7 linked regions of the Homo sapiens genome follow. The protein of the gene in region 4 purifies or fractionates together with the protein of the main gene of each other region. This does not show direct contact. Each region holds a gene or a part of one and is shown on either strand. Other genes may lie near its edges. The genes, in order: GC, ITIH4, SERPINF2, UBE2U, SAA4, PON1 and HRG.

Region 1 (2,441 bases), on a different chromosome or scaffold from region 4:
GGAAGGAGACTTTAATAAATTTATTCTTATCTGTTCAAACTCATTTTACAGATGAGAATATTAAGCACCGAGAAAAGTTAAAGAGCTTACACTTATACAAGAGCAGCCAATTTCTGATATATGTAAGACTAGAATCCAGGTTTACTGGTCCCCTGCCTTGTGCTTCATCCATCATAATCTCACATGTAACATAATGATACCGTAAAGAACATTTAAAGGATTCTGATGCACTTCAATAGGAAGAACTCTGAGTTTAAAGACAGGGCTCATCAAGTCTTAAAAATAACACAGCAAGGACCTTAGGAGGAAAGGGACATTCTTATTCAAATGAAAACAATACTGTTGAAATATTATTACTTGCTTTTTTCAGTCACTATATTTTCACCTATTAAAAAATGCCAGATGAAGATATTAAGAACATAAAATAGTTTATTCCAACGTAAGTTCACATCTTAAACTGAAGAGCACCCCCGCCGAACTCTGCACATTTCAACAACAATATTTTCTCTCCAGATTCAATTGTATTTATGCTAAAGAAATTACACCTGAGACTTTTGATGCAAACTTGTTTGGATCTCAGTTCTTAGCTGAACTGAGGCTTTTCAATAATGTCAACGTTTATTTTGCTGACTTACTGACAACTCTGCCCAAAATAATGTGGAAACAAAAGCCTTCCAATCCATTCATTAATAACATTAAATCATTTCACCATATTCAGCTTTTCAACTATTATTTAAATCCTCTGAAGCTGTAAAAAAGAAAATTAACAGTCTGAGAACCAGTACAAGGGGGATGGTCAAGAAAACTTATATTTGAAATCACCCAACCTGAATTAGAATCCCCACTCTAACTATCTGTCTGTGAATTTGAGCAAGTTATCTATCCTGTCTAAAGATGAGTTTCCTTTCATGTAAAATGAAAATTTCCATATCTCCCTCACAGTGTTGTTACAATGATTGAGGTGATGTATATCAAATATTTAAAAAGCAGTAAAAATGAATATTAGCAGTAATACTAGCAAAGTTGTTGCACTGATGCTCCTACTACTACTGGTTGAATCTAAACTAAAAAGTTTTCCTGCCCATATATTTTTGTGCTCTGGTATACAAATATCATGTCCCAACGATAAAGTAAGTTCTCTAAATAATTTTCCAAGGAATAAAAATCAAAATGCAAGTTATTTGAAGTGTAAATATTCTAGAGTTAAAATAGTTTCTGATCTCTGTTGCTGCTAAATTATTACATCCTCCCCCCATTTGAATGAATCTTTCCTTTATCTCAATCCCCATATAATAATCTCCAAAGAGTTAAAATCCCAATATGCAACAGTGACCTCACCTCTCATCCTTCAAGATTTCTTAAGCTTTAATTAAGAGTCAGGGTTATTTGGAAAGCTATATGATAACTTTGATTTTGAATATGTTTTTCACTGGACTGTGTTATTATTCAGAACTCAGAGTGCATTTCCTTAGTGTTGTATGTTTTTAGGCTTTGGGAAAACTAATTAAAATAGGAGAAGATATCCTAAGGTAAGTAAGGAGGAAGTAATAATTTGATGGATTTCAAGAGATTTCTTTTCAGAACAAATGTCAGAAGTATCTTTTTTTTTTTTTTTTTTTTTGAGATGGAGTCTCGCTCTGTCTCCCAGGCTGGAGTGCAGTGGCGCGATCTCGGCTCGCTGCAAGCACCGCCTCCTGGGTTCACGCCATTCTCCTGCCTCAGCCTCCCGAGGAGCTGGGGCTACAGGCGCCCGCCACCACGCCCAGCTAATTTGGGTTTTTTTTTTTTTTTTTGTATTTTTAGTAGAGATGGGGTTTCACTGTGTTAGCCAGGATGGCCTCTATCTCCTGACCTCGTGATCCGCCCGCCTCGGCCTCCTGAAGTGCTGGGATTACAGGCATGAGCCACTGTGCCTGGCCCAGAAGTATTTTTGATGCTAACTCAATCAAGAGATAAACTTGGTTTGTCAGTGACAAGCTAATGAAGATTCTAATATACTGATTCTTCTGGTTCATGGTCATTATCTTCATCTGATAAGATGAAGAAATGAAATTTCTTATCATTTCTCCTGTGTTAGTCTACATTTTTCTCTGGCCTTTAATTAATCCTTTGATTTCTGTACCACTAAATTGTTTGGCTACCCAAATACATTTTGATCATCTGGATGGATTACTCACATATTCACATATTCCTTCCTAAAATTATTCACATATCCCTTCCATGGATTTTGGTAACATGCATTGAGTGTTTTGAGCTCAATTTTATCTACTGCTTGTTTATCACCATTGCATTCTGCAATGATGAAGGCCTACCAATGTTCAATTATTTCAGGAATAGTTACATGGCTTTGAAAAAGCAAATTATACCTTGTTCACAAAGTTATAGGTCTGAGGTACTTGATATCCAGAAATAATGAGACCACAACTTTACCACTTATCTTA
Region 2 (3,500 bases), on a different chromosome or scaffold from region 4:
CCCTACGTCTGCTTCCTCCTCAGTCCTGGCCCCACACGGCTGCACGCAGGGCTGGGAACAAGTGTGACTCAGAGAGCTCTTGCTGGTGATGAACTAGTTCCCCTGGAACAGTCCGTGAAATGGAAGGGGCAGGTGGGAATGTGGGCCAGCTTCGGCCAGACTGGACAGGTGGAGAGAAGGCAGGATTTAGCCCGGCCCTGCCCCTCTGCAGCCTCCCCTTCGTCCCTTCTATAAAATGAATGCTTACTGTTACTGTACACACCTCCGGGAGCTAGAGGCCTGGAGCACTTTGCAGAGTGCCCTGCACAGGGTCCTGTATGCGGTAGGTGCATAATAAATGGCACTGGGCTCAGGCAAAGATGGGAGTCACTGTGTCAAGAGGCACACCGAGTCCAGAAAGGCTCTCTGGAGGAGGCAGGAGTGGAATGGGCCCCTGCCACCAGGCTCTCAACAACTCCCACCCTTCTGCCCCCAGGATCATCGATGGCATGACCTACCCAGGGATCATCAAGGAGAAGGCTGAAGCCCAGGCACAGTACAGCGCAGCAGTGGCCAAGGGAAAGAGCGCTGGCCTCGTCAAGTGAGCTGGTGGGGGGCAGCTTCAGTGGGGAGGGTCTAGACAAAGGCCACCTTGCCTTTGGCCCTTAGTCCTGCTCCCACCTCTACCAGCCTTACCCCACCTGTCCTGGAGGAGCAGGCCTGATGCCCTTCTCCCCCAGGGCCACCGGGAGAAACATGGAGCAGTTCCAGGTGTCGGTCAGTGTGGCTCCCAATGCCAAGATCACCTTTGAGCTGGTCTATGAGGAGCTGCTCAAGCGGCGTTTGGGGGTGTACGAGCTGCTGCTGAAAGTGCGGCCCCAGCAGCTGGTCAAGCACCTGCAGGTACCTGCTGCTACCTCTTCCAGGGAGGCCTCCTGCATGACCCTTGCCCTGCTGAGGGCGGCCCCTCTTTGTCCCTGAGCCTCCTGTGAGCCCCAGCCCAGGCTCCTGGCTGACCCAGGGACCCACATCTTGCCTCCAGATGGACATTCACATCTTCGAGCCCCAGGGCATCAGCTTTCTGGAGACAGAGAGCACCTTCATGACCAACCAGCTGGTAGACGCCCTCACCACCTGGCAGAATAAGACCAAGGTGGGCCTGTTGTGGTCAGCAGGTGAGGGTACCAAGGGCCCTGCCTTCAGGCCAGCCCTATGAGCCCGGATTTCTGGAAAGCAGGATGGGCTCTCCCTCCTGTGAGCTGTGACCTGGAGAGGCTCCTGAGATCTCTGCATCCTTGCTGTCATTTGGCAGATGGGGAGGGCAAAGCCTAGAGAAGGACCATGGCGTCCTCGTATGAGCCCTGAGATCTGTCTGGGAAGGGGCTGGATAATAGACTGATGTGAGGGTCCTGGGGCCAGGTGGAGAGAAGGAGATGGTTGGATGGCACACATCCTGGAATAGCCTCTGCTTGCGCAGCTCCAGGAACAGGGAGCTCATCACACCCCTCCCCTACGTGAAAGTGGTCCATCAATAACTCAGCCTGAAAGAAAGTGCCCTGGAATACGGACCCAAGGCTGCATCCTGGAATTCTGATTTCCCAATATACAGACAGGGGTAGAGGGTGTTGTTGGCCTGGCTTTGCTGTTCCTCCCAACTTCAGCCCGGATTATTCCTCCAGGCTCACATCCGGTTCAAGCCAACACTTTCCCAGCAGCAAAAGTCCCCAGAGCAGCAAGAAACAGTCCTGGACGGCAACCTCATTATCCGCTATGATGTGGACCGGGCCATCTCCGGGGGCTCCATTCAGGTGGGTGGACTTCAGGCAAGAGCAGAGCAGCCTAGAAGTCTGTCCACCCCCAAGGGCCTGAGCTTGGGTATTTTAGAACAGGAAAAGAACCACCCTTACTTAGCAGTGTGCACCAGGGACCGGCACAGACAGAAAACACGTGATTTAGTTGTGTTGTCCCTGAAACTATTCCCTTTCCCAGGCAGAAAAGGTTTGTCTCTGAGAAGAGCTGCCCTGTGGGGTTTCCCTCTTTGCCTCTGCTGCTGGGAGGCTCACAACTCAGTTTTATGCAGATTTGCAGTAGTTTCTTTCACACTAGTTTCTGGCATTATTATTGTTGTTATATTTTGGTATGATCATGGCTCACTGCACCGTCAAACTCCCAGGTTCAAAAGAAACTCCTGCCTCGGCCTCCCTAGTAGCTGGGACTACAGGCGTGCACCACCACACCTGGCTAATTTTTTTTTTTTTTTTTCCAGTAGAGACAAGGTTGCCCAGGCTGGTCTTGAATTCCTGGGCTCAAGTGATCCTCCCACCTAAGCCTCCCAAAGTGCTGGAATTACAGGCGTGATTCACCACACCCAGCCATTTCTGCCATTGTTATTATACTTCCCTTTTACTCCATGTTTTTGAAGTCTTCCCTCTTTTGATGGTTGTCAGGTTTATGATGTCTGAACTTTTTAGTATAAACCATCTGAAATACTAAAACAAATAGAAGGAAAAGTTGCAGGGAGAGTTCTGGTGGGCTATGCATGAGCAGGGAAGGCTTCCGCAAGAAAGGGGCTGGTCTGAGCCCTGAAAAAGGGCAAGGTTTTGGGGAGGTTAGCAGTGGGATGGAAATGGGATTGGAACAGAGCACAGAAACCCAGAATTTGGGGTAAAGGGGCTGAATGGGGATAGGGCCAATTGTAGCTCTGATGGCCTGGGTGGGTCTCACTCTGGCCACAGATCGAGAACGGCTACTTTGTACACTACTTTGCCCCCGAGGGCCTAACCACAATGCCCAAGAATGTGGTCTTTGTCATTGACAAGAGCGGCTCCATGAGTGGCAGGAAAATCCAGCAGGTAGGTCCTGTGGCCCAGGGCAGGGCCCTGAAAACTCCCAGGCCCTTCACGCTATCAGCTGTGGTCCGGCAGGCAGACCCCCTTGCTTCACCTTTCGGCACCATGGGGCGGGTGGCTCTCAGGAACCAAGGTTGGCCAGAGCCTAGGGCAGCCCCTGTTCCTAGAGCAGATACCATGACCTCACCCCTGAGACAGGAGTCCAAGGATGCCAGCCCTAGGGCACACGAGCCCTCAGGGAGCCCTTCTGAAGCACCTATGTTTCCTCTCCCTGACCAGACCCGGGAAGCCCTAATCAAGATCCTGGATGACCTCAGCCCCAGAGACCAGTTCAACCTCATCGTCTTCAGTACAGAAGCAACTCAGTGGAGGCCATCACTGGTGCCAGCCTCAGCCGAGAACGTGAACAAGGCCAGGAGCTTTGCTGCGGGCATCCAGGCCCTGGGAGGTAAGTGTCTCTGTGGCCCTGCAGGGTGGGGGCTTCCAGGGCTCCTGGCTGGGGACCACCTTGAGAGTGCGTGTTCCTCAGGGACCAACATCAATGATGCAATGCTGATGGCTGTGCAGTTGCTGGACAGCAGCAACCAGGAGGAGCGGCTGCCCGAAGGGAGTGTCTCACTCATCATCCTGCTCACCGATGGCGACCCCACTGTGGGTGAGGGCCCTGCCCGT
Region 3 (2,895 bases), on a different chromosome or scaffold from region 4:
AGGAAGGTGTCAGCCCTGTGCCAAGGTTTCCCCACCTGCTTCCCCCAAATCCTCAGGCACTGACTGTCTCCAGCTGGAGCTGGGTACTCCCGGCAGCCTGCCCCCGGCTGGCGGGCACCAGCTCCTGGCAGAGGGGCTGGTGTGTAATTAGAAGCTCCACAAACTCCCTAATTGCCAGTTCTTCTCCCAAACCAGGAGGCTGGCGCTGTTCTGAGCCGCCCTGTTGCCGGCTGCCTGAGGCATAGAGAGAAGAAGAAGCCAGGAGCAGAGCCAGGCTGGCGTGGAGGTGTCCCGGGGGAGGGCTGGCGAGGTCAGAGGGGACCACGGGGTGGAGGATGCCTGGCGAGCGGCCAGAGGCCAAACGTGGCACTGCGCGGGCTGCCACCCCTGCTGGGCCCAGGGTTCCTCAGCACAGTCCACCCTGCGGCCGCCTCCCTGCCTTCCCCACCATCCTCACTTGTCCCCACCCATGCCCAGAACGGTGACATCAAACCAGCCAGGCCCATTCATTCTTTATTCAGGTGGCATAAAAATCACTACAAAAACCTTACAAAAGAGCCTTAAGGAGCTCATGGGATCCTTCCCTGCCTCGGTTCCTGAGCTCCCGGGCAGAGGAGGGAGACAGGAGAGGAAGGAAGGGAAATGCTGGCAGTGTTGGGATCTCGAGGAGCCGTGGGAAGTCTGGCGTGACAAGGCACAGGGGGTAGGATGGAGGCTGATGGACTCTCGGCAGGTTAGGCCACAGCCAGGCTGTGCCAGACACGAGTTCCACGCGGGGCTGAGGACAACGCTTCGCCTCCCGAGCCACCACCAGGGCCCGTCTCTCCCCACCCTAGCCTAGGTGTCCCGGGACAAGTCCAAAGGCAGCCCTCTCCCCCTCCCTTTTTCTCTGGTAAACAAAAGTCGGGGTGTCCCAGCTGACGTGGGGAGCAGCTAACCTGTCTCCTGGCAGAACTAGAAGCACCTCCCTCCTGCCCAGGCCCCGGTGCAGGACACCCTCTGAGCCTGTTTGGAAGAAAGATGAGGGTCAGGCTCCCGGCTCCCCGATGCCTGCCCTCCTCCCAGCCGCGCCCCCCCCCCACCCTAAACTCCCCAAGAGGTGTTGGGAAAGAATGGCCTCTCTCAGACTGCCCCCGGCCCCTGCCCCAGTGCCACAAAGCCGGTTGGAAAGAGTCACATGAGTGGAGAGGCTGGTCCAGGCAGGGACTCTGGATGCCACAGCCACGGCCCCTCACTTGGGGCTGCCAAACTGGGGGTAATCCTCCTCCATGGGGGGCACAAGTTTTAAGTCAGGGCCGAAAAGCTTGTCTCCGCGGGGGAAGCCTTTCAGGCTCTGGAGGAAGTCCTTGTTGCCCGGGGAATCCTGCTGTTCCTTGAGCTCCCGCGGTGCACTGGGGTTGGGGTTCCTCACGCTGCCCACGAAGAGGGGAAGGCCTGTGGTGTCCTCGAAGATGAAGAAGAGGAAGGGGCGGTTCACGCTGAAGGAGGACAGGGACATGCGGGACATGGCAATGCTGGTGGCCGCCGCCGCCTCCACGCCGACCTCGCTGAGCTCCAGGGTGGACTGATGCTGCACGCCGGACACCACCAGGCTCTGCTCGGAGATCCCACGCAGGTCTGGGGCCTGGAACAACTCCTGCAGGCCTGCCCAGGGCCAGAGATGGCTGGTCAGAGCTGCCCTTGGCCTCACAGGCTCCTGGAGCTGCTTGGGAGGGTGTCTGAGATCCTGGCCAGGGAACAGCTTGAACTCACAGATACCTGCTTCATTCCTATCCGGTTTCCAAGACTCAGCTTAAACACCACCTCCTCCAGGAAGCCTTCCCTGATCCCCAGCTCTAAAGTCCAACCAAGGTACATTTTCAGTGTTCTCCCAGGTGAGCTGGAGAGAAGCCCTCTCTGTCTTATCGCTTATGCTGTAGTAAGTATGTGATTGCTCGTCTGCCCACCCCATTAGACTCAGCTGTTTGTACATGGTGGGCTCCCGGTACCTGGTACAGTGCCTGGAATACAGCAGCTGCTTAGCAAATGGCTGAAGGATAGATGCTTTATTTATTTATTTTAGTTATTATAATTTTTTTTTGAGATGGAGTCTCACTCTGTCATCCAGGCTGGAGTACAGTGGCGTGATCTCGGCTCACTGCAACCTCCTCCTCCCAGGTTCAAGCAATTCTCCTGCCTCAGCCTCCCAAGTAGCTGGGATTATGGGCATGCGCCACCACGCCCGGCTAATTTTTGTATTTTTAGTGGAGACGGGTTTGGCCATGTTGGCCAGGCTGGTCTCAAACTCATGACCTCAGGTGATCCACCCTCTTTGGCCTCCCAAAGTGCTAGGATTACAGACGTGAGCCACCATGCCCGGCCTTTATTTTTATTTTTGAGACAAGGTCTTAGTTCTTTTGCTGAGGCTGGAGTGCAGTGGCACAATTATGGCTCACTGCAGCCTCAGCCACCTGGGGTCAAGAGGGCCTCCCACCTCAACCTCCCCAGTAGCATGCACCACACCTGGCTAATTTTTGTATTTTTTGTAGGGACGGAGTTTCAATGTGTTGCACAGGCTGGTGTCGGACTCCCGGGCTCAAGCAATCCACCCACTTCAGCTTCCCAACGTGCTGGGATTACAGGCATGAGCCACTCCACCCAGCATTTCTTTAACAGTGTGACACCCCAGCTTCTCCTCCTTCCCCTTCCAGGGAAGCCAGCGAGGCTCACATGCCATCCCAGGCTCTCTACCCAGACTCTCCTTGCAATGCGAGGTCTTGGGCAGCAAAGCAGAGCCCCATTCCCCGGGCCACCCCAACTTCCTCTAGGACAGAGGGTCTGGGGGCTCATATTCAACCCTCTCCCCGCTCCCGAAGCCCTGGAAAAGAGCAGGACACAGGACAGCTCTGACTCAGC
Region 4 (2,623 bases):
ATGAGTGAATACTGGTGAGGCAAGCAGAGTTGGGGGTCAAAGGCAGAGACATATTTTAGAATAGGAGAGACCAAAGCACATGTGTAGGTTGAGACAATATGGCAAAAAGAGACAGAGAAAATAAAGTTATAAGAATACGAGGAGATAGGTCAAGGTTTAAGAGAAAATGGCACGTACTCTGGGATAAAACAGAAGAGAAACATTAGTAAATAGCGACATCTCATTCCTTGAATATGGAGGAAACAAGACAAGAAACTAGGCAGATGTAGGTCCATGTATAGATCCCGCTACTTGGGGTCATGTCCAGCCTCTGAAGCTTTTAATTGCTCCCCTCCTATCCCAACCTCTTTCTGACCCATTCTCTGCCTGCAAAAACTTGTGTCCAGTAGCCTAACAACTGTGGGAGTGTGACACCATTGATTGGCATATGGCAATGAACACCCCTAACTTTGGTAACTTTGTTCTAAAGGAGTAGCACTCAAAAAAGTCAAAGCAACATCTTTACTGATTTGTACTTATATTTCTAATTTGTACTTGCAGTGAGTGGGTGAGAACAACTTAAAAAAAATGAAATCCAAGTTCTGAGAGTCTTCCAAAATTGCTCCACAACGCTGGGCTATGGCGGAGGCTGTTTATTTTTTGAATCTGATAATGTTCTGCTTAATCTTCTGAAGTATTTGTATTGAGAGTATTGGTCCAGGAGATCAGATCTTCCACTTCCTCTTCCCTGGGCTCATCTGTGTCATTTTCATATAATGAAGTGTCACTCTTCCACCCCTCCTCTTCTGTTTCATAAATGTCTGTGATGCTATTTATTGCAGTTGGTGACTCAAGAAAAATTTCATCTGTGGTGGGAATTATAAAAAATAGAAATTTAATAGACATAATAAGAAAAACAATAAAAAGAGAAGTGTTCCTGCATTTGTAGGATAATGCCAAAGACCATCTGAATGAATGTGAGCAACCTTTTATACACTTTCTAAACTTCATGTTTTGTAAGTAACTTTATTTGTCAAAAATCATTCTTTCCATTTTGCTCAATCTTTTGATGCTTTGTTAGTTCATTCATTTAGCATATATATTTACTGGGTCTCTGCTAAGGGCCAGTTGATGTGCAAGGGAAAAGCTGCTTTGGGAGCACAGGGAGGGAATCACTGTGTCTAAGTGAAAACTGAGTCGGACTTTGAAACAGGAAGACCAGTTTGTTAGACAGAGAAGGGAGGTCAGAACATGTTAGATAGAAGAAACAGCACACATCGTATAAGCACAAAGGTATGAGAGGACTTGACAGGGTTAGGGGTGATCAGAATGGATTCTCCCGCGCTTCCACTGTGCCAGGTGCGGTGCTAACCCGTCGACAGCTATAATATTATTTAACTCAGACACAACCCTTGTGATGGGCAGGTATTATTATTCTTATTTTACAGATGAGGAAACTGAGGCTGAGCAACCTATAGTAACTTGATCAAAGATATCCAGCTAATAACAAGACTCGTCCCAGATCTGTCTATCCAAAAACACAATGTTATAGTATACAGAAAGTTTCGTGGAGCTGGAAGGGAGGCTGAAGCCAGATCAGGAAAGCCTCATATGTCATGCAAAGGACTTTCATCTTTATCTTATAGGCCTTGTAAACAGGGAAATAAACTGATTATACTTTTCAAAAGGAGAATATAGATATAATGTCTATATTTCTAGATGTATATTTCTACACAGCATGGGGACCTTGCTTTCTGGGGATGAACTCTAGCTGGTACTATTTATGTTCTGTTAACTCTAAAATCTCACTGCATTCTCTTCCCTTTTTCCTAGTTGTCACCGGATTCACTGCTGATTATGGGTTCCAGGACAAATTTTGTTTGCCTCATATGTTTATTTCCCTCACACATGAAATAAACCCTGTAATATTTGCTGTCTTCTAATGTTATAGACATGGGCTACAAGTGACTTGTTTTCCTTCTGTCTTTGGTTTATAGAAAGATACACAGACAGACCGGGCATGGTGGCTTACACCTGTAATCCCAGCATTTTGGGAAGCCAAGGCAGGTGGATCCCTTGAGGTCACGGGTTCGAGACCAGCCTGCCCAACATGGTGAAACCCTGTCTCTACTAAAATACAAAAATTAGCCGGGTGTGGTGGCAGGAGCCTGTAATCTCAGCTGCTCTGGAGGCTGAGGCAGGAGACTCACTTGAACCCGGAAGGCAGAGGTTGCAGTGAGCTGAGATTGACCCACTGCACTCCAGCCTGGGTGACAGAGTGAGACTCCCTCTCAAAACAAAACAAAGAGAGAAAGATACACAGAGAGATGTGAGTTTACACAGTCACCATTATCCTATGGTTATCCTGAGGCCCACAGTGATTTTTAATTTTTTGTACTTTCGGTACTAATATTTAGTTGTAATTAATTTAAAACTAAATTCTGTCTGTGCCTTGAGAAAAGCATCTATTTATTTTCCATGAACATATTATTGATGGACTAACTCCAGTTCTTTCTAACCATGCTTGGGCCTTTCTGACTCCACATGCTTTTGATTACAAGAAATATAAAGCCAAGTCAACCCAGTTTAAACAATAGGAGAGTGTTTTATCTCACATAAGAGAAAAGCCAGAGTGGAGAGCAAG
Region 5 (4,067 bases), on a different chromosome or scaffold from region 4:
ATACTGTGTGAGAGACAATGTGGAACCAAGTTCTTTCACTCATTTCTGGTGGGAGTAGAGATTGATACAGCCCTCATGGAAGGCAATTTGCAACATATAAAAATTTATAAAATCTAGGGCCAGGGACGTTGGCTCATGCCTGTAATCCTAGCACTTTGGGAAGCCGAGGTGGGCAGATCATTTGAGGTAAGTGGGTCGAGACTAGCCTGGCCAACATGGCGAAATCCCGTCTCTCTTAAAAATAGAAAAATTAGCCTGATGTGGTGGCATGTGCCTATAATCCCAGCTACTCAAGAGGCCGAGGCAGGGGAATCTCTTGAACCCCGGAGGTGGAGGTTGCAGTGAGCTGAGATCATGCCACTGCACTCCAGCCTGGGGGACAGAGTGAGACTCTGTCTCAAACAAACAAACAAAAAATTTATAAAATCTGATACTTTTTCACCATGGAGTTTCTTCTGTAGGAATTTATCCTAGAGATATATTTGTACATGTGCAAGAGACATATGTACAAGGTTAATAAATGCACCATTATTTGTAATATCAAAAGGTTAATAACTGTCAAAACAGCCATTAATATTGTATAAATTATGGTCCATCCATGCAATGGAATACTGTGTAGCTGTAAAAAAAAAAAAAAAAAAAGCAACAAGCCCGACATGGAAAGACTTCCAATAAATAGTAAGTTTAAAAGAAAGTGCAGAATAATACATATTTATATGAAAAAAGAGTTTTTATGCCTCAAAGGCCTTCACCCTTGATCTTCTGGTGTTATTCCTGTCCTTGTATTCTCCCAGAATCATTACCTCATCCCATGAATGGTACAGTCAAGTCTTGCTTGTTCTGTGTCCTTACATTCTTTAGAGAGAAGTCACAAGAGACAAGCAAACATCTCTTTTGCTAATAATATTGATCACTTCCTACAGCATAATATCTATGTGCAATTTTTTGGGAAGACCTCCTACTAAACAGTTAAGAATGGAAAGACACAAAGAGAAGAAAGTGGAGAAAGACCTCTGTCTTCCCACACTGGATTTTGCAAATACAACTCTTCTGTGATACAGGAAACTAAAAAGAGGGAAAAGTGGCAATTAAGAAAAACTGCCAGAAAATAAATACCTTGATGACCCAATTTGGAAAACTACTTCTAGATAAGGAAACACTATTACCCAATATGTTAATTTTTAAAATACCCAAAGAATTGAGCAAAAAGGACTTTGGCAAGGCAGGTTGTTGGATTTAAAACCGTTCTCCCATTAATGCCAAAGCCAGCAGAGGTACCAACTATAGCTCCACGGCCAGAAGATACCAGCAGCTCTGCCTTTACTGAAATTTCATCTGGAGAAAGGTCCACAGGTGAGGTTTCTTCCAAGGAGTAATTTCTCTTATTTGACTCTTTTGAGATCCTTTTCTCACATAATTGTCAAATTTCAATTGGAGAGAAACTGTGTTTTCTACCTCATTACGGGGTCAGTGCTGAGGAGAGTAGGAACTCAGGAAATGCTTCTTGATTGACTTTAGTCTGCTGTATTGGGTGACAAATTGACCACAGACCAAATAACACGTTGGAATCCTCTTATTCTTTCTAGAGATCTGGGCTGAGAATTAAGGGTTTATGCTTCTTCTTAAAACCCGTTTCAATCTTTCATGCAGTTATGATTCTCATACAAACAAATGGAAATGGGGAATTAGTCTTTCAAATTCAGTCCTTTGGCTGGCACAGTGGCTCATGCCTGTAATCCTTTGGGAGGTTGAGGTAGGAAGATTGCTTGAGGCCAGGAGTTCGAGACTAGCCTGGGCCGAACATACATACCAAGACCTTGTCTCTACCAAAAAAAAAAAAAAAAAAATTAGCTGAGTGTGATGGTGCACGTTTGTAGTCCTTAATACTCAGGAGGCTGAGGTGGGAGGATCACTTGAGCCCAGAAGGTCGAGGCTGCAGTAAGCCTTAATCATATCATTGCACTTTAGCCTGGGCAATAGGAAAAAAAAAAGAAAGAAAGAAAGGGAGGAAAGAAAGAAAGGAAGGAGAAAGAAAGAAAAGGAAAAAAAGAAAGAAAAAAAGGAAAGAAATTCAGTCCTCAAAACATAGATCTGTGTTTTTTTTTATGATCCTCTGCCCCTGTCTTTCTTTCTCTTCAGCACAATGAGGCTTTTCACAGGCATTGTTTTCTGCTCCTTGGTCATGGGAGTCACCAGTGAAAGCTGGCGTTCGTTTTTCAAGGAGGCTCTCCAAGGTAAGAACTCTGGAGGATGGAGGGCACATACCCAGGATTCATTCTGAGCAGGGGCCACATACTCACTGGATGTGAGTGCTCCTTAGAGAAGCCACACAGAGGTCAGAGCAGGAGTGTGGTTTTCTGTATCTGTTTCTTCCTCTAGGCTGGTCTGATTTATCACCCTCCCTTGGGGTTTCCAGACGAGAGGTTAAAGATGCTTTGGGCCCAGCCTGTACTCTTGGTGTAGAGTGCAGAAGGATAAAAACTTCCAGGGGGTTATCTCCCACTGCGGAAATTTACAGATGGCAGATTTCTCAGGGCATGATGTTTATTTAGCTCATCCACCTCAGGGAATATACTGAGTTCACAATTATACTCCAAGACTGAGACATGCCTAGCAGAGAGTAGAGAAATCCCATCCTGTACCCAAGCAAATGGCCAATGCTTGGGATGCAGAGCTTATGAAAATTAAGCCCTAACTTCTATCCATAAATAAAAAGAGCAAATTTCTACTGATTAGCCACAGGAGGGCTGAGATACGGCTGGGAAACTGACTTCTGCCATTCTGGATGGGAAACGAATCTTATTGACTAGCTGTTAAAATGGGAAAACTATGTTTGTCAGGTTATGCAATACTTTGAACTTCATGTGTTGTTATTAATTTTGTAGTTGAATTTTTTGTAATTTTTCAATTGAAATTTTATAAATTTTCATTTTTTCTGCATTTTGTGCTTTTAAAAATGATATTCTATAAATAGTTTTTAAAAAGTTTTGGTAGCATGTACTAAGTTTTTCTGCACATAGTAGAGAATATCTTTTCCCTTAGGTCAGTGTATTTCAGAATTTGTTGTATGGTCCACCAGCATTTAAATCGGCCGGTGTTTGTTTTAAAAGTACACTCTGAAGCCTCTTCTCATAGTTACTGAGTCAGAATCTTAGAAGTGAAGTGGGACTAGGAATAGCATTTGAAAAACTCCCCAGGTTACTTTAAGCACAATGCCAATGAGAACAACTGTCTTGGGTTTTTCTGTCACCCAGTGACAGAATCTGTCAGATGCTTGGAGAAAACTCTTGCTAGTAGATCTGGAAAACATAGAATGAACATAAAGCATGCATCAGAGAAAGGACAGTCATGCCATGCCAGAGATAAACTATTTGACAAAATTACAGACACAAAATAATACATGAAGTTAGTGAGAAATATCCCTTAGAACACAGTACCTAAGTAACAATTAAAACTATTTATCACAGCTTTTCTTTTTTCCAAGTGAGTTGGTTTAAAGAACTTGGTAACACGTAAACCACAGCAGAACTCAAAAATATTTATTGATTGAACAACACAGGCACTGATAGACATTTTCTATAGCTCTTCCTGGCTTAGACCTGTTTCAAACATCTATTTTTCCACTAATCTTTTTAAAAACTTTAAAATGATATATAACTTACATATAGTACACAGTATAGCTTGATGAGGTTTTTACACATACAAACATCCATATTACACCATCAGATCAAGATGTCAAACATTTCACACACCCCGGATGGGTCTCTCATGCCCTCTTCCAGTTAACAACCCTCACGAAAGGTAACTCCTATTCTTACCTCTATCATTGTTGATTAGTGTCCCTGTGTTTGATCTTTGAATAAAAGAAATCATACAGAATATGTCTTTTGTATCCGGCTTTGTTTCACTCAACATTACGACATACTAATATACATGACAGCATTTGTCATGTGTATTAATATTTTGTTCTTTTTCATTGCTACATAGTATTCCATTGTATACTGATATCACAATTTATCCTACATTATTGGATAATTAGGCTTTTTAAAGTTTTATGCTATCATGGC
Region 6 (3,500 bases), on a different chromosome or scaffold from region 4:
ACATTATAAATCAAATACATCACTAAGCACACTGCTTAGTTAAACTGACTTGTTTTTCACAGTAATACTTTCTTGATGAAGGAAGTATTGCCTTGATTTACATTTTGGTACAAATTCCTCATCTTGTCATAAACCTGCACTACTGACGTATCTATACCTGCATACTATTCAACTCATTATACACTCACATCTTTACTCAAAACAAAGCTATTCAGACATATCAAATCTTCATCACAGTTCCCCCTCTTAAAATGTACTTTCTTTCCAAAAAGGAAATAAAACCAGTATGCCTTCACAATGAAATTTTTGATTTGATAAATTTCACCCCCTGAAAAATTAAGACATTTTACATTTTTCCTAATTTTATCTCACTAGGGTAACATGTTAAAATGTATCATATTACTTAAAAAAAGAATATATTCCAAGATATCTCCTGAGAATCTGAGTAAATCCACTACATTTCAGAGAGTTCACATACTTGCCATCGGGTGAAATGTTGATTCCATTAGCAAAATCAAATCCTTCTGCCACCACTCGAACTTCACTTGGACTATAGTAGACAACATACGACCACGCTAAACCCAAATACATCTCCCAGGATTGTAAGTAGGGGTCAAGAAAATAGTGATCATTTGTGCCATAAAAGTGCTCAGGTCCCACAGCAACAATATCATTCAAACTGCAATTAAAACATACACACATAATATATAAGGTGAAGGTATTGAACATTACAGGATTATTAACTGGCATTCCTCACTGTCTATTCCTAAAATCAAGATGTGGGATGGAGCCTTCGTGCTAGCTATAATGGAACACAATTAATATGAAATTAGTCCTGCCGATACAATCCTTAGACAATCATTGGTCTAAGAAATCTGAGGAGGTGATTATAGCACTGTAACATAAAAATCCTATTATATGTATCTTAAAATAGTGTTACGTCGTGTGTGTGTGTGTGTGTGTGTGTGTGTGTGTGTGTATCTGTGTGTGTCTGTGTGTAAATACACTAAATTCAGTAGAAATTAAATTAAGCCAGAAATCATTGTCAGGGCAAAAATGTGCTCACATATCTGGGCTCACATAGAACTAACTCCCATAAGAAATTGAAAAAATGCTGAACCAGCAGCCTGGATACTTGCATTTTAGTTTAAGCTCTGCTACTATTAGCTGTGTGATCTAAGAAAAATCAATCTTTTCACATGTCAGGACCTCAGTTTTCTTATCTGTGAAAGCAGGATGATAGACTGGTTGATCTTCCAGCCTTAAGATTTCGTGATTCTAAACTGAATGAAATGTCCATGAACAAGAATGCTCAGAAATAGAATGCTATGGCTTTTTTTTTTTCCTTTCTGATTAGGATTCTCTGTTACTGAAAATGTAAGATATATGAGTCTATTTTTCTGCTTTAATGGATACAATAGGGAACACATAAGTGAGTCATTCTTTGCTGATTGAGGTGATGGAAGTTCCCCAGGGCATGATCTGGGAGAAAATTATCTCTGCTCTATTGCAGAGGCGTCATGGCCAGCGCATCAGCTCTGACGCAGCTCTGAGCTCTCAGGCAAGTTAGACAGGCATGCAGAGCCTCAGTTTTCTCATCTGTAAAGAGAGGTTAAATGATATTCTCAAAATCATACAGCTCATTAGTAGAAAACTAAGGGTCAGGATCTTAATTTGTGGAGTTGCAGTGGGAATTACAATGAGACAATGCCTGTTGTGTGCTTTGCAGGGAGCATGACATTCAATAAACCCTCAATCAATGCTAGCCACTATTACAACATGAAAAAAAAAAAAAGGTCTCGGAATTTAGGATTAGTCTGGATGGGCTCCAGACATAAATCTACAATCTGATTTTACTCTCTCTTTTTTAAAAGTAAATTTCTTAAATTAGTATGCTGGACTATCATTTGTCTGTTTTTCACAGAAAGGGGCAGAGTGGAATGGTTTAGAGCAATAGCTTTTTATTGCTGAAAATTTACTACCCCCAGGTGTAGTAAAATAAGTAAATAAATAACAAATTTTTAAAGGGTAATAGAGTAATAGCTTTGAAATCTGATGGACTTCATTTGCATCCTGACACTGCTTGCTATCCTTATAATGTGGGGCCACAGCATTGTCACTAAATTTTGAGCCACTATTCTGAACCTCTGTTTTCTCTGTATACCTTGAAAGGCTAGAGTAAGAATACAATGAAATAATGAATGCAAAGGCCTTCACACCATGCCTGGCATACAGTAAATGACCAATAATAACAGTTGTGATATATGAATAATAACAAGTTTAAATTATAATAGATTTAGTTATTGGAATATTAATGTTATAAAAAACCATAAAATACAAAGAAGAAAATACACACAGCTAATCCTTGGATTGAGAGAGCAGAACTCTAGTTAATTACGGCACCGTGGTTATTTTCAGTCTCCAATGCTGCCTAAGACCAATATTTTTGCAACTGGCTCAAGAAAAAAATACTCCAATCCGGTAACGTAGACCAATCTGAGATTTCCAAGATTAAATGTTAAAACACATAATTTTTTTCACTATTTTGTAGAGGTTTAAAGCACCAGCTCTGAACTCATGTTACCAGGATTAGAATCACAGCTGCACCATTTACTGATGATGTCATCTGGGGAAACTTAACAATTAGTCCAGGCCTCAACTTTTTAAAAATCCAAAATGGATATAATAATAACACCTAATTCAGAAGGTATTTGTAAAACATCAATAAAATAATCTGTTTGAATTAGTTAGTGTAGCACCTGACTTACAGAGAAAGCTCATTTATTAGTGTTATCATTTGCCCAGCTTCTCCATTCTACATACTGTTCTCTACTTTAAATCTTGGTGTTCCTCACATTCTCCACTCAGTGACCTTATTCTCTCTCCAAAATATATTTGTTAAATAAATGCACGAATAAACTCTTCCACCAAAAGCTGTTCTCTGAACTTTTATTCATCTTGATGGGGCAGAAGATGACCTGAGCTGGGGTTCCTACTTGGCCACTAGTGAGTTGATTGGCCTTCATCCAGTAACTCAATTTCTCTCCAATCTCATTTTCCTCATCCTCAAACCACCAGATAAGAAAGAAGAGGAAGGGGTCCTGGTAACACAGAGTGCACACTACATACCAGGCCCTTAGCTAGGTACCTGCAAAGAGTACAAATCTAGATTTACAGATATGGAGGTAGTCAAATGCTGTACATAAATTATATAAAAATAGGTTGGGATTCTAGAAAATCGTAATCAGTTGGAGGTAAATGTTTCAGAAGATAGAGTCGGATTGTTCTCCTAAATCCATCACTGGCCTTACAAGCCAAATCTTCACAGGGCATGTGAGGAAGTTGACTGAGATTGGAGATTCTTGAGTGTTTTATTTCACCATATGTTACATGAACAAGGTGCCTAGGGGGAATTGAGTGTTACCACAGATCTGCTATTGCATAAATTTTGTGCAATCAAACAGCAGCGGAGGCAGTATAAGGAGGTCTTAGATGCACTT
Region 7 (3,500 bases), on a different chromosome or scaffold from region 4:
ACTGTGAGCCACCTGATTCCAGACGTCCATCTGAAATAGTAAGTAAAGAGGGCACCTTCACTCTGCTCTTTTCATTCTTATTTTCCATCTACTCTGTTCACTCAGCCAATGCCTGGGCTAACACAGTAGAAGAGAAAGGGCAGCTTTTGCCTTGAGATTCATGAAGATGATGTTAACCTTGAGCAATACTCTTGAGAGTCTTTCCTGGGAACCCAGTTCAAGACAACTCAGCAGGGTGTGTGGTCCCATCAAAGAGCATAACCAGCTGTGGGTCCTTGGGTAAATCATCTAATAACATCCCTCCACTTTGGTGTTTTTTGACTGTAAAATAAGAAGTGGGTTTAGGAATTCATGGACTCTAAGGGCCTTCCACTCTTGACAGTCTACAGGTATCAGAATCTATGAACTTGTAATTGTGTCCTATGAACAATGGTCCTATTTTCAGGAATGGCCAAAGTAATTACTTGCAGTGAGGAATTGGGTCTTGCTCAGCACCTAGGATATACACTGAGGAATAAGATCTGGCTTTGCATGTGGGAGGTGGGTATTGACATGCCAGGCTCTCTGACACAGGTGGAGAACATGAAGATGAATAAGCAGAGATTCAAGATTTCATTTCCAGAAAATGAGAGGTTCACACTCCTGGAACTTTCACCACTTTTTCCCTTGAAAATGTTTGGGGTATGGCCATGATGCTTTAAATAGTTTCTCGCTGGTTCTCCTGAGGATTTTGAGTGCCAACAGGATGCAGCACACAGAAACTGACTAAGAAAATGCAGGGTTTGAGACAAGCTTTGATGAAAGAAATGCATTTTTAAATGAACAGTAGGAGGATGTTGCATCACCTTTTTGCTCTTTCATATCTGACCTGAGGAAGGCAGGATGCAATGACTCAGCAAGTCCTCAAGAGCCTCTTTCTTACAGGTGATCGGACAATGTAAGGTAATAGCTACAAGACATTCCCATGAATCTCAGGACCTCAGAGTGATTGACTTTAACTGCACCACAAGTTCTGGTATGGTAATCTGTTAAATTGCTAATTAATTCTTGATTAATACAAATTCAATCATACAGTGGTATTTGTCTCATCTATGTACATATGTATTCATATATATTCAGATGTATTCATGTATATCTATGATGTACATGAAAGAAAAGCCTTCATAGACTCCATTATTATTCATTCTCCAGAGAATAGAATTGAGACAAATTTCCCTGGTACTGGTACACCTTCTTTTAAAGAAATTCAACACATAAAAATAGAGATTTAGGAGAGGTAGGTTAGCCTCATTATAGATATAGGCTTTGGAGTCAGGCTTGCTTTAGCTTGAGTCATCATCTGCCAGTTGTATAGTCTTGGGAGGAAGTAAAGTCTTGGGACTATGAAGTAAAGGTTATGACACTTTCTATTTAAGACAAAATAATTGATGCTCAAAGAAGTTAAATGACTTGGCCTCAAGAACAAAGCCAAGATATTGTGAAGATGTGACACAATCCCAGGAGTATTAACTCTAAATTCCACAGCTTTTTTATTTATTTATTTTTATTTTTGAGACAGAGTGTCGCTCTTGCTACCCAGGCTGGAGTGCAATAGTGTGATCTCGGGTCACTGCAACCTCCACCTCCCGGGTTCAAGCAATTCTCCTGTCTCAGCCTCCCAAGTAGCTAGGATTACAGGCATATGCCACCACATCCAACAAATTTTGTATTTTTAGTAGAGATGGAGTTTCTCCATGTTGGTCAGGCTGGCCTCAAACTCTTGACCTCAGGTGATCTGCCCACCTTGACCTCCCAAAGTGCTGGGATTACAGGTGTGAGCCACCACGCCCAGCCTCCATACCCTTTTAATTTACATTTTCAAATAGAATTATCACAGGATTCCTTTTTAAAATAGCAAATCCAAATATGATATTATATACAAAAATGCAAGATACTGCCACAGGAGTTTGCATTGAAGAAAGGATGATCTGTATCTTCTCCTCTCTCTGGGCAAAACTCTATGTTAATGCTCTGTCTTCCCCCTTGGCAACAACAGGAAGAACTTATTAAAATATTAGTGGCCTGGTGCGGTGGCTCACATCTATAATCCCAGCACTTTGGGAGGTTGAGGCCAGAGGGTTGCTTGAGCCCAGGAGTTTGAGACTAGCCTGGGCAATGTGACTCAACCCCATCTCTATTATTTAATATATATGTTAATATATATATCATATTAATACCTAAATATATGATTATATAATATAAAAACATATGATATATTATATAATATATAAATATATAATAGATATTATATAATAGATAATATATATTTATATATTAACGAATGTCATAGTTGTCATATTTATATATATATGTTAGCACTTTATCAGTGGTACTGGTGAAGGCATCATGAGTAGGGGTCACAACATAGACATGGGGATCAGAAAGACTCGAAGGAAGAATCAGCAGTTTAGTTCGGTTGCCAAATGGCTGATTGATCTTGAAGCAGTTACTCAGCTCTTCCCACCCTCAATTTGCCCATCCTTAAAATGAAAGTTATTGTCATTCTTGCCACCAAGCCACCATTAACATTTCCAGCCCTTTACTGTGACACTGCTATCTTCTTTCTCCAGTCTCTTCAGCACTGGCCAATACCAAAGATAGTCCGGTCCTCATAGATTTCTTTGAGGATACTGAGCGCTACAGAAAACAAGCCAACAAAGCCCTTGAGAAGTACAAAGAGGAGAATGATGACTTTGCCTCTTTCAGAGTGGACCGAATCGAGAGAGTTGCAAGAGTGGTGAGTCTCCACTAAGGTTCGGTTGGAGTCTGAAGGCCCAGGCTCCAACCTGGCAGCAGGAACTGAATGGCATACCCTCTCCACCTGCCTCAATTGACTAGCTGCCTTTTAATTTGTCACTTTTGAGGCCATAAAAGACAGGCAGCAGGTATTTAAAAAATACAAAAAAATTGCTTTCCTCAAACACTTTTTTTTTTTTTTGAAGGATGGGTAGGGGAGTAGACATCTGACAGAGTAGGGAGAAAATCTAAAGAGGAAACAGGGAAAGACAAGAACATATGAGGGTTGTGTCATTGCAAATCATCCAATACTAACATTCTTGTACTATGATGGAAAACTGAAGTTCAGAGAAATTACCTCACCACACCCAGTAATGTGCCTATAGTTAGATGGTTCCCTGCTCTCTCTACAAGGACCCAAGTACTTTCACCCAGAGCTGTCTTGTAGAGCAACTGGTTGACATTTGCTATGCATTCAGAAAATGCAGCGTTAAATAGATTGTGTTGCATACAAGTAAGGAAATGAGTACCATGCAGTTGCTCAAAGAATGTTTGGACCCATGCGCACTGGAGTTTGAAAACATATTGGTATAGGAAAATGCAGGTTATAGAACAGTACTTAGACTATGGACCCATTTATATGAAACACTTAGATCTCCCTGTGTATGTGTAACACATCTAGGAAAACACTCGAAGAGGAAACACATCAAATAAATGAGAATGAA

The links.
Region 1: the proteins of UBE2U (region 4) and GC purify together in Homo sapiens (affinity purification with mass spectrometry; one large-scale study listed by BioGRID and IntAct). This does not show direct contact.
Region 2: the proteins of UBE2U (region 4) and ITIH4 purify together in Homo sapiens (affinity purification with mass spectrometry; one large-scale study listed by BioGRID and IntAct). This does not show direct contact.
Region 3: the proteins of UBE2U (region 4) and SERPINF2 purify together in Homo sapiens (affinity purification with mass spectrometry; one large-scale study listed by BioGRID and IntAct). This does not show direct contact.
Region 5: the proteins of UBE2U (region 4) and SAA4 purify together in Homo sapiens (affinity purification with mass spectrometry; one large-scale study listed by BioGRID and IntAct). This does not show direct contact.
Region 6: the proteins of UBE2U (region 4) and PON1 purify together in Homo sapiens (affinity purification with mass spectrometry; one large-scale study listed by BioGRID and IntAct). This does not show direct contact.
Region 7: the proteins of UBE2U (region 4) and HRG purify together in Homo sapiens (affinity purification with mass spectrometry; one large-scale study listed by BioGRID and IntAct). This does not show direct contact.

Annotation. Positions count from the first base shown.
Region 1 is NC_000004.12:71,743,639-71,746,079, reverse strand, and holds part of GC (vitamin D-binding protein isoform 1 precursor), read left to right. Parts: intron 1-2,441. UniProt on the Homo sapiens protein: Involved in vitamin D transport and storage, scavenging of extracellular G-actin, enhancement of the chemotactic activity of C5 alpha for neutrophils in inflammation and macrophage activation.
Region 2 is NC_000003.12:52,824,173-52,827,672, reverse strand, and holds part of ITIH4 (inter-alpha-trypsin inhibitor heavy chain H4 isoform 1 precursor), read left to right. Parts: intron 1-475; coding exon 476-580; intron 581-719; coding exon 720-882; intron 883-1,021; coding exon 1,022-1,132; intron 1,133-1,658; coding exon 1,659-1,787; intron 1,788-2,358; exon of another isoform or gene 2,359-2,468; intron 2,469-2,714; coding exon 2,715-2,831; intron 2,832-3,107; coding exon 3,108-3,276; intron 3,277-3,335; exon of another isoform or gene 3,336-3,357; coding exon 3,358-3,483; exon of another isoform or gene 3,484-3,500. UniProt on the Homo sapiens protein: Type II acute-phase protein (APP) involved in inflammatory responses to trauma. May also play a role in liver development or regeneration.
Region 3 is NC_000017.11:1,752,871-1,755,765, reverse strand, and holds the end of SERPINF2 (alpha-2-antiplasmin isoform a precursor), read right to left. Parts: intron 1,645-2,895; coding exon 1,232-1,644; 3' UTR 501-1,231; downstream 1-500.
Region 4 is NC_000001.11:64,265,246-64,267,868, reverse strand, and holds the end of UBE2U (ubiquitin-conjugating enzyme E2 U), read right to left. Parts: intron 846-2,623; coding exon 661-845; 3' UTR 501-660; downstream 1-500. UniProt on the Homo sapiens protein: Catalyzes the covalent attachment of ubiquitin to other proteins.
Region 5 is NC_000011.10:18,234,003-18,238,069, reverse strand, and holds the start of SAA4 (serum amyloid A-4 protein precursor), read left to right. Parts: upstream 1-1,267; 5' UTR 1,268-1,353; intron 1,354-2,139; coding exon of another isoform or gene 2,140-2,143; coding exon 2,144-2,234; intron 2,235-4,067. Other genes in the region: SAA2-SAA4 protein precursor, read left to right, coding at 2,140-2,234. UniProt on the Homo sapiens protein: Major acute phase reactant.
Region 6 is NC_000007.14:95,307,533-95,311,032, forward strand, and holds part of PON1 (serum paraoxonase/arylesterase 1), read right to left. Parts: intron 680-3,500; coding exon 479-679; intron 1-478. UniProt on the Homo sapiens protein: Hydrolyzes the toxic metabolites of a variety of organophosphorus insecticides. Capable of hydrolyzing a broad spectrum of organophosphate substrates and lactones, and a number of aromatic carboxylic acid esters.
Region 7 is NC_000003.12:186,669,014-186,672,513, forward strand, and holds part of HRG (histidine-rich glycoprotein precursor), read left to right. Parts: coding exon 1-38; intron 39-924; coding exon 925-1,015; intron 1,016-2,609; coding exon 2,610-2,776; intron 2,777-3,500. UniProt on the Homo sapiens protein: Plasma glycoprotein that binds a number of ligands such as heme, heparin, heparan sulfate, thrombospondin, plasminogen, and divalent metal ions. Binds heparin and heparin/glycosaminoglycans in a zinc-dependent manner.